Regions from separate parts of the Homo sapiens genome. Here region 1 is linked to region 2. Evidence: fine-mapped expression QTL. Tissue or cell type: whole blood. Region 2 holds a variant in brackets; the other region holds the start of a gene. All regions are shown on one strand. Distances are between the middles of the regions. Region 1 holds the start of PXDN (peroxidasin). Region 2 overlaps MYT1L (myelin transcription factor 1 like).

Region 1 (2,877 bases), 67 kb after region 2:
TGGAATGTGTGAATAGGATCTTGCAGGAGAGATGTCTGCAGTGTGAGCTGGACCCACTTCTGTGTGTGGATAGTATCCTGCAGGAGAGATGTTGTCTGCAGTGTGAGCTGGGCCCACCGGAGTGTGTGAATAGGATCCTGCAGGAGAAATGGAATCCGGAGTGTGAGCTGCATCCGCTGTAGAGGGTGGATAAAATCCTGCAGGAAAGATGGCATCTGGAATGTCAGCGGGAGCCACCGACCTCTGAGGATGCACCCCGCAGGTGTGATGCGGGGCCAGTTCCAAGGCTGGGTTAGGTTTTACCCTGGCTTCTGTGTTGTACTCTCATTCTCTTCCTCTTTCTTCTAATACCTGCTCTGGGAGGCATCAGGCCATGTCCAGTGTGCAGGCCATGGAGACCCACACGGCAAGGAACTGGAACCCCCTGCCAGCAGCCTCGGGGGTCCAGTCCTTAGATGGTGCCCTGTGGTCAGCAATGCACCTGTGACCTCCGGGCTATGTCTCGTGGTAGTTGCTTTTGTGTTTTAACATAGCAACAGGAAACTAGCCTATTACCCACCAATCCCATTCCAGGCTGCTTTCAAACGCAGCTCAGGCTAGAACACCAGCACGGGGACACAGCTGAGACTTGGGGTTTGCGACGGGAACACGCCCATGCTGTGCCTCTGAATCTGGCACCGTCACCCTGTGGCCTGGGTTCAGCAACTTGGCCTCACCTTCCTTGTCTGTGAAATTCAGACTGGGTCCTTGTGAGATGATTGGAGAGAATGTATGAACTATGTGAGAACGCCACCTTTGTGCGTATCTCACGCAGTGTCTTCCCTCCTTTCCAAAGTCTTCTGCTGTCTCTAGACACACCCGACGTGGGGGGGGGGGGTTCCCTGGGTCTCCTCCTAGGTCTGTCCCAGGAGGGCACGCACTGAAGGCCGCGAGAATCCCGGGGGCTGCATTGCGCCGCGCCAAGGACTCCACACAGGACCTTTCATTTTCCCAACTGTGCTGAGCCAGGCGGCCGGCAGAGAGCAGGTGGCTGACAGGCCCCGGGGAGCCGGACCGCCTGGGTCTAATCTTCCCGCAGACTCCCTTGCTGTGCGCTTTGGGGCTTGGGCCTCAGTTTCCTCAAAAGGAATGAGGGGCTTTTTTGGAACGTTAAATAATTTCCTACGTGGTTGCGGGTAGGGAGAAGGAGAAAGAGAGGAGCGCGCCTGCGCGCCTGGAATCGTGCCCGGATCAGAGCAAGCGCTCTAAAAGTGTTACAAACATTAAGGCGCCAACTAAAAAACCCGTAGTGAGCGCAGGCAGAAACCACGGGTAAGAGAAGTGGAGAAGCTTCGCGTAGGCCCCAGGGTCCCGAGCCCCGAGTCTCGAGCGCAGAATCAGGGGTGCCAATGCTCTCCTCCGCGCCCCCGAGCGCTCGCCTTGGCCATGCGGGCCGCCCCACCGGGATGAGGGCGCTCAGGCCGGACGCTGGGGCCCCGGGTTCTCGCCCCGCCCCGCCCTCGGGGATTCAGAGGGGCCGGGAGGAGCCTCGCGCATGTGCACAGCTGGCGCCCCCCGCCCCCCGCGCACAGCTGGGACGTGGGCCGCGGCCGGGCGGGCGCAGTCGGGAGCCGGCCGTGGTGGCTCCGTGCGTCCGAGCGTCCGTCCGCGCCGTCGGCCATGGCCAAGCGCTCCAGGGGCCCCGGGCGCCGCTGCCTGTTGGCGCTCGTGCTGTTCTGCGCCTGGGGGACGCTGGCCGTGGTGGCCCAGAAGCCGGGCGCAGGGTGTCCGAGCCGCTGCCTGTGCTTCCGCACCACCGTGCGCTGCATGCATCTGCTGCTGGAGGCCGTGCCCGCCGTGGCGCCGCAGACCTCCATCCTGTGAGTGCCGCGGGGGACGCCGGGGGCGCGGGGTCCGGGGCTTCGTGGAGATCCGGGAGCGCAGGGGTGATCGGAGGTGGGGGGCGCGGAGGGTGGAGGGGGCATCGGGCGCGCGGGGGGCCTGGGGACTTGGGACGCAGAAGGGAACCTCCGAAGGGGGACGTGGGGGGACCTGGGCGCGGGGACCCGCTGGGCCTTTGTTCGCCCTGCGGGAGACGCCGAGGGGCGGAACAGAGCGCTGTGCGCGCGGCCTTCGTAGCCGCCTTTGTTCGGAACTCGGAATCCCCGCAGGACTGGGAAGTTGTTGGAGCCTCCGGGGCTCCCCCCGCTCGCCTCCCGCCGCCCCCTCTCATGCTCCGCCGGCCTCCCGCTTCCCCCTGGTTCGCGGCCCCTCCTCCGCTCACCTTTCCCCCGCTCAGGACCCCTCGGTCCCCCTCCGCTCCCCGAGCGCGGCGCAGCCCCCTCCGTCCTCCCAGCCCCCTCCGCCCCGTTCCTCGTCCTGTTCGCTCCCCTCCTCCGCTCCTCTTCCTCCTCCCCTTCCTCCTCCTCCTCCCCTTCCTCCTCCTCCTCCCCTTCCTCCTCCTCCTCCCTTCCCCTCCTCCTCCCCCCCTTCCTTCTCCTCCCCCAGCCTCCGCCCTCTCCCCCTCCCCCGCCCCTTGGAGCGCAGTGCCCACCCCATCCCCCCGCGCCGGGGAAGCCTCCCCAGAGGAGCCTCAGTTCCCGCAGCCGCGGCGCCCCCGCTCCCAGTGCCCCCGCATCTGCCCGGAGCGTCCTCTCCTGGGGTGTCCTGGGGGCCCCGCGCTTCTCAGGGGCTTTTCCTGCGCCCGGAGCGAGCCGGGCGGCCGGGGTTCCCGAGAGGGGCCGCGCGGTAGTCTCGGGGCAGCCCGGGTCTAGATGGAGCCGGGACTCAGAGCGGGTTTCTGCCTCGGGCATTTCTCTTCTTTCGCTTCTAATCCACGCGAGCGTGTTCGCAGTTGCGCTATACGTTTAACCGGATGCGTTGCGTTGGGGTTGACAC
Region 2 (2,903 bases):
TTTGTGAGGATCATACTGAGCCGGGCTGGGCCACACGCACCGTGGACCGACCAGGCGTCACCCTTGTCCTACAGTCACAGTCTTAGGACCTCTGCAGGAGGCCCTCACCCCAGCCCTCCTCTCATCTTAACCCAGGGCGGCAGCTGCATTCAAGAGTCTTTTTTTTTTTTTTTTTTTTTGAGACGGAGTCCTGCTCTGTCACCCAGGCTGGAGTGCAGCAGTGCGATCTCGGCTCACTGCAACCTCTGCCTCCCGGGTTCAAGAGATTCTCCTGCCTCAGCCTCCCAAGTAGCTGGGATTATAGGCACCTGCCACCACGCCCAGCTAATTTTTGTATTTTTAGTAGAGACAGGGTTTCACCATGTTGGCCAGGCTGGTCTGGAACTCCTGACCTCATGATCTGTCCGCCTCGGCCTCACAAAGTGCTAGGATTACAGGCATGAACCACCGCGCCCGGCTAAGAGTCTTCTCTTAACTTGGAAGTCCTGCAAAATCCTGCCGCAGGCCTCTTTGAGGGCTCAGTCTGCACCTTCCAGAGCCTGGGTGCACTCACACTCACCCTGGGCCTCCACTCACTGAGCCATCACAAAGTGCATTCAGACATTTTATGCTTTCAGAAGTCGTCACTGGGCACCTATTCCATCTCCAGCACTCTCCCATCATGGGGATACAGAGCAGTGAACAAAAAAGTGCATTTTAATCCTTGCCCTCAAGAATACACATTCTTTTCATTAAACTTCACAAACACAGTCAATTCAATATTTTATTCTCATTTCATAAGTGAGCAAACAGGACTGCCTAAGTCTTTCCTAGCCAGTTCCACGTCTTATGTGCGTTAGAGCATCAGGGGGTGCGGTGTGAGGTCCAGTGGGCCTCCTGGTCTCACAAAGGACTTGCCAGATGTAGTCACCTGACTGCAGAGTCTACCTGGATGCGGGGGCCAAAGCGCAGACACACCTGCAGGAAGATGTGTGTGACAGCCACAGTGTGTCCAGTGGCAGGAAGGGGAAAAGTGGCGTTAACATCCAAGCATCCTATTTTAGGAGAGCCTTAACAGATCTTTTGAGAACTTCTTATTTTACAAATGAAAATATCCAGCTCGCCTTCAGAAGCAGATTTACGGATAAGCTAGGGAAGCAGAAGTGTCAGCCCCCACCCCAGCCGGATTTGCAGGGCGTCCTGCTGGGATCTGATGGGGAGGCAGGAGAAGACCCAGGAGGGTGCCCCGGAGTGGGGACGACTGCCAGGTTGTTGCCCAGGCCCCATCAGGGAGGACTGAAGAGGAGCCTGTTCCCTCCGGAACGCGAGGGGTTCGTTCACGCCCCACACTAAAGACAGCTTGAGTAGCACAGGGATTTCCGGTGTAAACAGCAGCAGGCAGGGTGAGAGGATCCATCAGAAGCAGCAGTGCCAATGTCTAGTAACAAATAAATGAACAAAAAAACAGCAAAGGGAACCAC[G/A]AGCCAGGACCCCCTCAGGGACTGTCCGGATTCCTGGGGATGCAGTCAGGGCAAGCAGGAGAAGCCAGGGCGCCCACCGTGCCCACCCTGTCAGGCCACCCAGTTCCCAGAGGCCTCTCTGCTCCTGGGGCTTCCCGTGCGGCTTGCCCTGGGATGGGATAGGACGCGGGAGCTGATGATGCTGGAGCTGATGACGCCAGAGCTGATGACGCCAGAGCTGATGATGCTGGAGCTGATGACGCTGGGGTTAAAGTCCCCGCTGCTCCTTCTCCCACTGAACCTAGGAACATCATCAGCAAACACAGCAGTTCACAGCCACAGAGTTGTGGTATGAGCAACAAATACTGGTGATTGTCTTAGACGTTCCAGGGCTGCAAAAACAAATACCATACCTTGGGCAGCATAGAAACCAGAAATTTATTCCTCCAAGTTCTGGAGACTGGAAGTCCGAGACCGAGGCACCAGCAGATTCGGCATCTGGCAACTGCTGCTCTCTGGTTGGTGGACGACGCCTTCTCACTCTGTCCTCACATGGGAGAAGGGGTTAAGGAGCTGTCTGGGTCCCTGTTATAAGGGCACGGATCCCATCACGAGGCCTCCTCACTTCCCATACGCCCCTTCTCCTAACACCATCCCGGTGGGGGTCAGGATTTCAGTGCACGAGTTTTCAGGGGACACAGTCAGGCAACAGCAATGATTATTTAGAATTTTATGAATATTCTATTATAATTATGAGATGCAAACATCACATCAAAAAAATAACAACTTAGACCTGTGGTGTGGATGAAGAATACTGGAAATATTTTTATACAAAGATAGGATTTCCCCAAAAACAACCACTAATATCCCCAGTTGAAAATGTATTACGATCAAGTTCTTCTGCTATGAATTTTCCTGTTTTCTTAAATTTTAAAAGAAAATGTATTACAAAAATAATATTTAGAAAGCTTAATTATATTAATGCAGATATTAGAGATATTTCTAATAATGATGTAATCTGCCTGCACTAGTAAAGAGTGTTTCTAGATATATCACTAACACATCATCACACCACTTACGGACACGGTCCATCTAACACTTCATATACAGGTGAAATACAATATTATGTATAGAGAGAATAAACACATATGTCATATACATATATAAAACATTATAGGCGGGGTGCGGTGGCTCATGCCTGTAATCCTAGCACTTTGGGAGGCCAAGGCGGGCAGATCACCTGAGGTCAGGAGTTGAAGACCAGCCTGGCCAATATGGTGAAACCCTGTCTCTACTAAAAATACAAAAATTAGCCAGGTGTGGTGGCACACACCTGTAATCCCAGAGGCTATAATTCTGTAATCGGGAGGCTGAGGCGGGAGAATCACTGGAACCCAGGAGGCAGAGGCTGCAGTGAGCCGACATCGGGCCACTGCACTCCAGCCTGGGTGACAGAGCAAGACC

The links. PIP is the estimated chance that this variant, and not a neighbour inherited with it, causes the effect.
Region 1: PXDN starts here. The variant in region 2 is fine-mapped to the expression of PXDN in whole blood (TOPMed, PIP above 0.99).

Annotation. Positions count from the first base shown.
Region 1 is chr2:1,743,238-1,746,114 of GRCh38, reverse strand. It overlaps PXDN (peroxidasin), which reads left to right and starts at 1,600. Exons shown (of 23, transcript NM_012293.3): 1 at 1,600-1,859. The coding sequence starts at 1,660.
Region 2 is chr2:1,810,152-1,813,054 of GRCh38, reverse strand. The region is part of intron 21 of MYT1L (myelin transcription factor 1 like); the gene reads left to right. Among named protein-coding and RNA genes, the nearest start is that of PXDN, 67 kb to the right of the region's middle. The variant G/A (reference allele first, on the strand shown) is at 1,461.